3 linked regions of the Homo sapiens genome follow. The protein of the gene in region 2 interacts with the protein of the main gene of each other region in a pairwise test. Each region holds a gene or a part of one and is shown on either strand. Other genes may lie near its edges. The genes, in order: PAX9, TLE2 and BARHL1.

Region 1 (3,654 bases), on a different chromosome or scaffold from region 2:
CAACACTTTTACCATCTATGAGATAGAGGAAATATGTCAACATTAACCAATAATAATCTTTAAAAGTTAACCCTTTAATCCATCCTATTTTCCTTCTCGTATTTTAAAAAGTGGCTTTAAATCATAATTTTCTTTGAATAGCAAATTGTATCTGATATCTTTTAAAAATTACTCCATGTGAATTCACTGTTAAGACCTAGAGGGAGAAAAGGAAACTTCAATACCATTAATATTAGATTTTTTAAAATACAAGAACCAGAAAAAAATTATAAATAGCACAATAACAAGAGATTTCTTAATTTAGATAAAGAAAATAACATTATTTGCATTTCCACACAAGCAAGTAATATTTTTTAAAGCCCCCTAACAGCCACCTAAAAACATTTGATAAAGAATAGTTCTGTACCTTACATCAGTTTTTCAGATGACAGGAGAGTCCCTGTATGGTATGGTTTTAAAGAAGTCTCCACCAAAATATTGGATTGGATCTTTGTTCCATTCAGTTTATAGTCTATTTTCTCACCAGACTGGGAACTCCAGATGTCAATGGAAGTTTTACAAGATCAAAGGAAGACTATGGCCCTGAGAGTTCATCTGCTCCTTCTGCTTATTCTTCTCCTGAAGTTATAATCCTCTATTTGTAGCACTGAATTTCGGTTGCTTTAGAAATAAATGCAGTTCAAAGCTCTCTATAAGATATCTGCTGTCTGAAAAAAGCAGTCACTCTAACATAATTTGTGTGTCAGAAATCTGCTTACTGTTTACATCCTAGTGATTTGAAAACCTAACTAATCTAGCCATCTGAGTTTTAAACGAAGCCACGAAACCGATGTGGTGGAACCGCATTGCCATGTAGACTGTGCACAGCACAGACCGGAAGAAATTAAAATCACCTAGGGAATCCATCTTCAACATCCATATCCAGTGAGGTGCTCTTTTAGTTATTGCACAGAATTAGTACCAAAAAACCCTCAATATATTAATTTTCCAACAGCTGAATTGTACCAATGTCCTAAAAACATATTTTTAAGCCTATATTGCCAAACAGGAAGAACTTCCTAAACAGAAGGGATTAAAAACTGTAGAATTTTGCCCCAGAAAATCAATTGTTTTAAAATACAACACATACTCACATGCTCACACACACATATACTCCACAACTGTTATTAACATTAAAGTGAAAAATAAATTGGTCTAGAAAGGTTTATGAGTTAAACTGTGTCCTGTAATTTCAGAAATGAATAAAGGGAATTTGTTAAAATTAAATAACATTGTATTTCTAGTACCACCACCAGTTTACCTACATGCGAAACATGCTTCTGTACAACAATGTAAACTTCACAGCAAGCCATTGTTACATTCATTAGAGCAGAATTTTCCATTTTCTTTAAATTACAACATTATTTGGGGCTGAGATTGCTGAACACACAGGTAAGCCAACAATAATAGGACAATTTAGTTTCACAGTGGTTTTCTTAACACAAAGTTCATTTTAAGCATCTTTGCAAAACATTTCACATTAAACTTAAGTTTCTAAGTGACTTCCTTTAGAGCCTTCTTGTTCAGATATTTTCCACCCTCTTGTCTTTATATGCTTAGCATGTGTGTTGTTTGATTAGGTACAAAATGGGAGACTGGCTTGTTTTATCTGTTTTTCGTGTCCTCTGCTGTAGAAATAAAGTGTCCTTCATGAGATGTTGAAGCCTTCACTGCATACACAAAATTTGGGGGCAAGTCCAGGTCCAGGAGCCCGAGCAGCCCACCACCAAACAGAGACAAAGACGTTGCCAGAAAGTCACCTTTGCAAAAAAGAAAGAAAAAAATAGAGAGGGGGTGGGGCTGAGGGGAGGGGAATATCTTATGGAATGAAGACACAAATGCACCATCCAGAGTCCGTATTTACAAACTAATAGAAAATATAAACATTATTGTATTTGGAACCAAGTCAAAACACCAGGGAGAGCTAGATTCAGATATTGCTTGGGTTCTACATATATTTTTCAACAAAATAGGTCATGTCTTAAACAAAGGATCACTCAAACAAGTCACTTATTGATTTGTTTCCTAATGATGAATTAAAGCTTACTTGGTTACCATATTTGATTAGAGGGTGTAGCATAATTTTTTCTATAAGTATTTTCCTTTATTGATTTTGCAAAATCTCAACAATTGCACATTTCAAAAGTTCAGGTTGATTTAGAATAAATATACACATGTGGTTTTACCAAAGACTAGTTTGTAAAGTTCCTTAAACCCTTTGAGGGGTGTAGGTTTCTTTGTTATGTTAAGACAGTATGTGGGCAACACAAATGTCTCATTCAATGCTTATTGTTGCTCTTGTTTTTAAATCCTAAAGTCATGTCAGTTTTTCTGCAAGAGAAAAGTTATGGCAAGAAATATGTAAGTGTCATTAGCACAAAGGATGTGAGTCCGTACAGCCAGCTTTCAAGGCAGAAGGGTTGGAGGGCAGGAGGGGTGGGATGTGAGACCTGGGAATTGGGGGAGGAGGTGCTGAGACAGGGAGACCCGGGTGAAGCTGCTGGAGACGGAATTTCCCATCAGAGCGCGGAAGCCGTGACAGAATGACTACCTTCTCTGGCTGCCTGCATTCCCTTGAACGCCAGCGATGCCGGAATGTCACAGTTGTGGGGAGACAATGAGGTGCCCCCAGCATGTTGCCACCCATGTCCAGCAACATAACCAGAAGGAGCAGCACTGTAGGTCATGTAAGGCGACACTTGGGCTGGGGTAGGGTAAGGAGCCATGCTGGATGCTGACACAAAACTGCCCACAGCTGGGAGACCATTTGGTGCCTGAGAGGAGTAGAAAAGAAGTGAAAAATAATCACATTATAGGAGTGAACATTTCACACGTTCTTAGAAAGAAGCAGAACTTAAGTCTGAGTAAGCCAGCAATGCTCTGACTCTACTCTCCAACTTTTTAAAAAAATTTGAGCTTTATTATATTCTAAAGACATTCACAGTCTTGCCACTTAAACAAACATAATGACAAGATATTATTCTTTCCACAAACATTTAGAGAAAGCTGCAACCAGAAAATTCGTAGTATTTGCTTGTGCCACTTGGAAGTACAGGAAGGAGGTGCAGGGTGAGAAAAGAATTAATGGCAATTAAATACTCTTAGAATCTGTTCGGCTGTCCTCATTGCCTTTGTCAACCTTCCTGGGACTTGGGTTTTGTTTGGCTCTTTTGTTGAGGCACTTGTGACAGGCCTGGTTGGTATAACTTTCATTTTCAGTAAAGAAGGGCACAGACTGCAGCCTGTCATGTTAGAAACGCACAACAAACACGACCTTCGTTAAAGAAAATATAGACCATATTTTAAGAGATCATATTGAAAATGCCCGTTGGACAAAGGACATACAAAAATCAGGCACTTTGTCTTGTAAGGATTTTTAAATGAATATTGCAAGTGCCTTTTCCAGGACTGTTTTATCAGAAAGGAAACTGTCTTTCCCCATATAAAAGAACTGCATATGCCTGGTTTTGAAACTGGAAATTTTGCTTGCAAAGTTTTTGGGTCCTGTGATGTGAGTTTTTAAAAGCCACGTGGATAAATCTCTTGAAGTGAATTTAGAAATTAAAATCTTTGTTTGCAAACACAATGCAGCAGTCCCGGCAGGCGAGCCTGCCG
Region 2 (3,654 bases):
CTTTCCCATTACAGTGACAGAGTTTGGTAGTTGCAACAGAGACCTCTGGCCTGCAGAGGGAAAATGTTTTCACTCTCTGGCCCTTTCTAGAAAGTCTTCCAACCCATCCTACACACACCCACACACAGGTGCACCCCCATGGGAGCTCTGTATCCGCATCCTGATACCTCCTTGGTGGAGACAGCCCAGATGTCTGTCTTCAGGAGCGTGTATACACAAGCAGCCTCAGAGTGCATACAGTGGAATATACTACTGTTCCGCTATCCTACACGGCAGTCACCAGCCCCGTGTGATCATTTACACTTAGGTTAACTATTAATAATATTTAAATCTATTATTTTTTTCCTTAAAAAAATTTTTTTTTTTTTTGAGACAGAGTCTTGCTCTGTCGCCCGGGCTGGAGTGCAATGGCACGATCTCAGCTCACTGCAATCTCTGCCTCCTGGGTTCAAGCGATTCTTCCACCTCAGCCTCCCGAGTAGTTGGGATTACAGGCACCCACCATCATGCCGGCTAGTTTTTGTATTTTTGTAGATGGGGTGGGGGGGTGGTTTCACCATGTTGGCCAGGCTGGTCTTGAACTACTGACCTCAGGTGATCCATCTGGCTCGGCCTCCCAAAATGCTGGGATTACACGCGTGAGCCACCGCACCTGGCCTAAAAAAATTTTTTTTTACAAAAATTAGCTGGGTGTGGTGGCAGGTGCCTGTAATCCCAGCTACTCGGGAGGCTGAGGCAGGAGAATTGCTTGAACCTGGGAGGCGGAGGTTAGCGTGAACCGAGATCACGCCACTGCATTCCAGCCTGTGCGACAGAGTGAGACTCCGGCTTAAATAAGTATATATGTATAATGTAACAGAGAGGGAGTCTCACCATGTTGCCCAGGCTGGTCTCAAACTCCTGGACTAGCGTAATCCTCCCACTCCAGCATCCTAAAGTACTGGGATTACAGGCATGAGCCACTGCGCCCGACCTGAAATCTATTAAGTTAATTTTATATTTAAATTTATATTTAGGCTGGGCGCAGTGGCTCACACCTGTAATACCAGCACTTTGGGAGGCTGAGGGGGGCAAATCACTTGAGATCAGGAGTTCAAGACCAGCCTGGTCAACATGGTGAAACCCCGTCTCTACTAAAAGTATGAAAATTAGTTGGGTGTGGTGGTGCGCACCTGTAATCTCACCTACTTGGGAGGCTGAGGCAGGAGAATTGTTTGAACCTGGGAGGCGGAGGTTGCAGTGAGCCAAGAGCATGCCATTGCACTCCAGCCTGGGCAACAGAGTGAGACTACGTCTCAAAAAAGTAAAAATAAAAATAAGCCTATTAAATTTATTTTATATTTAAACTTGTATTCACTTAAATTTAATAAAATTAATCATTCTATTCATCAGTTGCACCAGCCACATGTCAAATGCCTGGTGGCCACACACATGGCCAGTGGCTTCTGTGTGGAACAGCAAAAATACAACATTTTCTTTCTTTCTTTTTTTTTTGAGACTGAGTCTCGCTCTGTCACCCAGGCGGGAGTGCATGGCACGATCTTGGCTCACTGCAATCTCTAACTCCCGGGTTCAAGTGTTTCTCCTGCCCCAGCCTCCCGAGTAGCTGGGATTACAGGTGCATGCCACCATGCCTGACTAATTTTTGTATTTTTAGTAGAGATGGGGTTTCACCATCTTGGTCAGGTTGGTCTCGAACTCCTGATCTCGTGATCCACCTGCCTCAGCCTCCCAAAGTGCTGGGATTACAGGTGTGAGTCACCACGCTCAGCACCCCCCCCCCTTTTTTTTTTTTTTTTTTTTTTTTTTGAGACTGGGTCTCACTCTGTCTCCCAGGCTGGAGTGCAGTGGTGCAATCTTGGCTCACTGCAACCTGTGCCTCTTGGGTTCAAGTGATTCTCCTGTGTCAGCCTCACGAGTAGCTGGTATTATAGGCACCCGCCGCCACGTCTGGCTAATTTTTTTTGTATTTTTAGTAGAGATAGGGTTTCACCATGTTGGCCAGGCTGGTCTTGAACTCCTGACCTCAAGTGATCCACCTGCCTTGGCCTCCCAAAGTGCTGTGATTACAGGCATGAGCCGCCGCGCCCGGCTCAGATATAACATTTTCTCGCAGCAGAGTCCCACAGCTCTGAAAGCTGAATATGCTGCCGCCACCCACCACATCATGGAAGAAGCTTAAAATGTTATGCTGAGAGGCCAGATGCCAAAGAGAACTCAGAGAATGAGCCCACAACGTAGTTGAAAACGGACAAATCCACGCAGGTTTAGGAAGGCGATCGTAGGAGGCAGAATTATACAGAAAAACAAAGAAATTATTGTCATGAAGGTGGAGGAGGGAGGGTGTTCTGATGGCAGGGAGTGTAGGGGGCCCCTGGAGTCTGGTACTTTCTGTTCCTTAACCTAGGAGAAGGGTCCATGGTGCCGATTTATCACAGTGTTTTTTTTTTCTTGGGGGTAGTTTTACCACCAGGAGACGTCTGTGGTTGTCACAACTGGGGGTGCCCCTGGCATGGAGTGGGTGGAGGCCAGGGATGCTGCTCGGCTCCTTGTAGTGCCTGGAACAGCCCCGCCCCAGAGAACAATCCAGCCCCAGATGTCTTTGGTTCTTCGATGCTCCAAAGGAGAGACTGTGATTTGTAATATATATATATTTTTTCTTGAGACAGAGTCTCGCTCTGTCACCCAGGCTGGAATGCATTGGCACGATCTCGGCTCACTGCAACCTCCACCTCCCGGGTTCAAGCGATTCTCCTGCCTCAGCCTCCTGAGTAGCTGGGATTACAGGTGTTTCACCATGTTGGCCAGGCTGGTCTCGAACTCCTGGCCTCAGGTGATCTGCCCACCTCAGCCTTCCAAAGCGCTGGGATTCCAGGCGTGAGCCACCATGCCCGGCCTGATTTGTAACTATTCTACCTGCACTTAGGTTTGGTTTCTTTCTCCGTGTGCTTATTTCAAAATTCCAAAAGGAAAGGGAGAGAGTGAGAGGGAAAAAGATAAAAGAGAAATGGGAAGTACCGGGGCAAAGATGAGAGGGTGGCGGGGAGAGGTCAGGTCCCCAAGGGCACCGCTAGCATGAGCAGGGGCTCAATGTACCCTCTACCTGATCCCTTCCACCCGCCAGCATCAGCAGCAGGTGCTCCAGGCCGTAGAACGCGCCAAGCAGGTCACCGTGGGGGAGCTGAACAGCCTCATCGGGGTGAGTCTCTCTAGCCCCTGCCCCGCCATGGGGAGACGCCCACTCCCAGGTCCCTGGCACCCACCCAGGAGGTGTTAAAGCTGGGGTGGTGTGTGGGCCTTGGCTCCAGTGGTCCTGGGAACCCCAGGGGCACATGCTGTGCTTAGGTCCCATCCCCTGTGTCTACCTCTTGGGCTGGGGACCGCTGGGCTCCTGCCGCCCCCCGCCCCGGCCCATCCTGCCTCCTTTCTAGCAGCAGCAGCTCCAGCCGCTGTCCCACCACGCACCCCCTGTGCCCCTCACCCCCCGCCCAGCCGGGCTGGTGGGCGGCAGTGCTACGGGGCTGCTTGCTCTGTCTGGAGCCCTGGCTGCCCAGGCTCAGCTGGCGGCGGCTGTCAAGGAGGACCGTGCGGGCGTGGAGGCCGAGGGGTCCAGAGGTGAGTGGGCAGCACGGGGTGGCATTGGCTGGGGAGACG
Region 3 (2,728 bases), on a different chromosome or scaffold from region 2:
TCTGTGAGGCTCTTCAGGCCTCCCCAGCCTTTCTGGTCCCAAAACCCGAGGGGGGAACTGGCCAAGCCCTTGTTCCTTGGGGACAGGGTGACTGGGAAGTGGGTGTTGGGGCACCGGACTTGAACTCGTTTCCTAATTTCCCTCCCGAACACACTCACCAGACGTAGATGCAAATGTACAAACACAGAGGCATCCACACACTCAACCCAAATAGCCACACACCGACACACACATCAATACAACTTGCAGTCACACACGCACGCACGCTCAGCCCCACAGTCACTCGCACGCTCTTAGCAGAGGCAGGAATGGTGCTTTTCATAAACAAGCCTCAGAACACATCGCCCCATTAATAATAAATACTGATTACTGCTCCGGGCATCAATAATTAAGGCCTGTTACAGTAATTACACAATTATGATGATGATGAATAATTCAGGGAGGGAAACAGGGCTGGTGTGGCTGAGCCCACCTTAGTGGGACCCTGGCTGGTCCGCCTAGCCTCACCTGCAGGTGAGCCTAGGGTCCAGGCCTGACTTCTCCAAACCCCAGGCCGTTGGCTGGCCAAGGCCTCTGGACTTTGGGGCCAGACAGTGCGCAGGGCTCGCAGTGCGAGCCCTGGAGGATGGCAGGTGCAGCCTGCTCCAGCCGGCAGGGCGTGCGAGCCGGGAGCGGGTCCTCTCCGGTTGCCATTTCAGGCCTGCTCGCTTCTGCTAGCTTGCAGCCCGGCCAGCCTGCAGAGGAATCAATCGCATTCCCTTCCCTGAAGAGCACCCCCCCATCCCCTCAGGCCTCTCCAGGGTGATCCTACCTTCATAAAGAGGCACGCGCAGGGAGGAGCACCCCCTACCCAGCTCCAAGGGTTCGTTCTGCGATCTCCTGGGCAGGGTAAGGCGCAGTTAGAGCCGGGCTTTGGGGTCAGACAGCAGGGCTTAAAACCCAGGCTCCTTTTTGAAAACCGGCCCAGACCTCAGTTTTCCTCTCTGTAAAGTGGGGTAAGAGCCACGGAAGGCCGGTGGAAGATAAAAGGAGAGGATGCACGTAAGGCGTGCGATGGTGCCTGGCACTCGGTTATTTATTAACAAATGAGTACGATCCCTCTTGGCCTCCCTACAGGCTCTCTGGGCCAAGCAGTGGGGAGGGGCTGGGGTCGCTGGATGCCCTAGCCCTGATCCCGCCATACGCGTTTATTTCGGCCCCCAGGACTAAATGGAAGCGACAGACGGCCGTCGGGTTGGAGCTGCTGGCGGAGGCAGGCAATTACTCAGCGCTCCAGCGGATGTTCCCGTCGCCTTATTTCTACCCGCAGAGTCTGGTTTCCAACCTGGACCCCGGCGCGGCGCTCTACCTGTACCGCGGCCCCAGCGCGCCGCCGCCTGCTCTCCAGAGACCTCTGGTGCCCCGCATCCTCATCCACGGACTCCAGGGCGCCAGCGAGCCGCCCCCGCCGCTGCCCCCCCTGGCCGGCGTCCTCCCACGCGCCGCGCAGCCTCGGTGAGGCGCCCGTCGGCTCCGGGGCCTCCTCCCGCGGGCTCGGCGTGGCCCCTTCCGCCCGCCTTTCTGAGGGCGCAGGTTCGACGCCCTTTCCCGGGAGGGGGCCCTGCCCGGCCCTCCCTGGCGCCCCAGCCCAGTGCCCCCCGAAGGGCCAAATGCCAAGTCCACTGAGGCCCGGACCCCGGACTGCGTCTCCCCAGCCCCCCTCGGCGTCCTCTCTCGCGGCCGCTCTGTCCGGGAGCCATCCCCACCCGCCGGGTGTACATACGCGTCTCTGCCACTCCCCACCCCCAGCCTCTGCCGGCTCCCCTAGGCAACCCCTTTCTCCCCAGGAGCGGGTGCGGCTGATTCCCAGGCTTCGCTCTCTCCCACGCCCCTTCTACGCTCCAGGTGGAGAACAGCCCCTCTCCCCGCGCCCCCGCCAGGGAGAGAAGGGGAGTGCGGAGCCCCGTCTCCCTACCCCTCGAGCACCTGGGCCAGCGGCTGAGCTGTACATACCGTGTGCAAAGTGTATATGAAGTTATTTATTCGTGACCCATGAGCCCGTGACCGTGTCCGTGGATTAGTGAGTCTGTGGCCTGTGCCCTCCCCACTCCCAGGCGGGGCAGGAAGGGGCCAAGGGGGCTTGCCCACCCACCCCGACCCCAGCCCCCAGCCTCAGCCCCGGTCCGGGGGCAGCCAGGCCTCTCGGGTTCTCTCTTTTTTAAATGTCGAAATAAACTTCTTACAAATGACCAGGCGCCTGTCCGCGCTCGCGTCGCTGGGTCCGCACTCAACCCCTCTCCCATCCCTCTCCTGGGGACTCGGTTTCCTTCCATCCTCAATAACGAAACATTTTTGTCCCCCTTCTCTTCCCCGGTGCTGTGGACATGCGCGGGGGCCCCGACGGGACTCGCTGGGGCCCGGGTCTCCCCTCCCTGGCCTCAGTCTTCCCATCTCTACAGCGAGGCCAGCTCGTTGTTCCCCTCCTCCTCCTCTGTCTCCATCTGGTTCCTAGCGGCTCCCAGACGGTCCCGAGGGCCGGGGCGGGGGTCCGTGCCGGAACAGGCGGGGGTCAGCGCGGGGCCTCGGTCGGCTGCGGGCCGGGCTGCGGGGCCCTCGCCGAGCCGACTCATCTGGCCGCGACAAGGGCCCCGGCAGCTGGTGACCGGCCCGCCGGGCGCGGGCCGACAGATGGGCTCCGAGGCTGCTCCCCCCATCACTCCCACCCTCCGCCCAGCGTCCGGCCGCGCTC

Evidence for each region.
Region 1: the proteins of TLE2 (region 2) and PAX9 interact in a two-hybrid assay, tested with the Homo sapiens proteins (one large-scale study listed by BioGRID and IntAct).
Region 3: the proteins of TLE2 (region 2) and BARHL1 interact in a two-hybrid assay, tested with the Homo sapiens proteins (one large-scale study listed by BioGRID and IntAct).

Annotation. Positions count from the first base shown.
Region 1 is NC_000014.9:36,675,357-36,679,010, reverse strand, and holds part of PAX9 (paired box protein Pax-9), read right to left. Parts: intron 2,814-3,654; coding exon 2,559-2,813; 3' UTR 528-2,558; coding exon of another isoform or gene 527-527; 3' UTR 1-526. UniProt on the Homo sapiens protein: Transcription factor required for normal development of thymus, parathyroid glands, ultimobranchial bodies, teeth, skeletal elements of skull and larynx as well as distal limbs.
Region 2 is NC_000019.10:3,019,244-3,022,897, reverse strand, and holds part of TLE2 (transducin-like enhancer protein 2), read left to right. Parts: intron 1-3,124; coding exon 3,125-3,199; intron 3,200-3,431; coding exon of another isoform or gene 3,432-3,434; coding exon 3,435-3,615; intron 3,616-3,654.
Region 3 is NC_000009.12:132,588,025-132,590,752, forward strand, and holds the end of BARHL1 (barH-like 1 homeobox protein), read left to right. Parts: intron 1-1,203; coding exon 1,204-1,498; 3' UTR 1,499-2,228; downstream 2,229-2,728.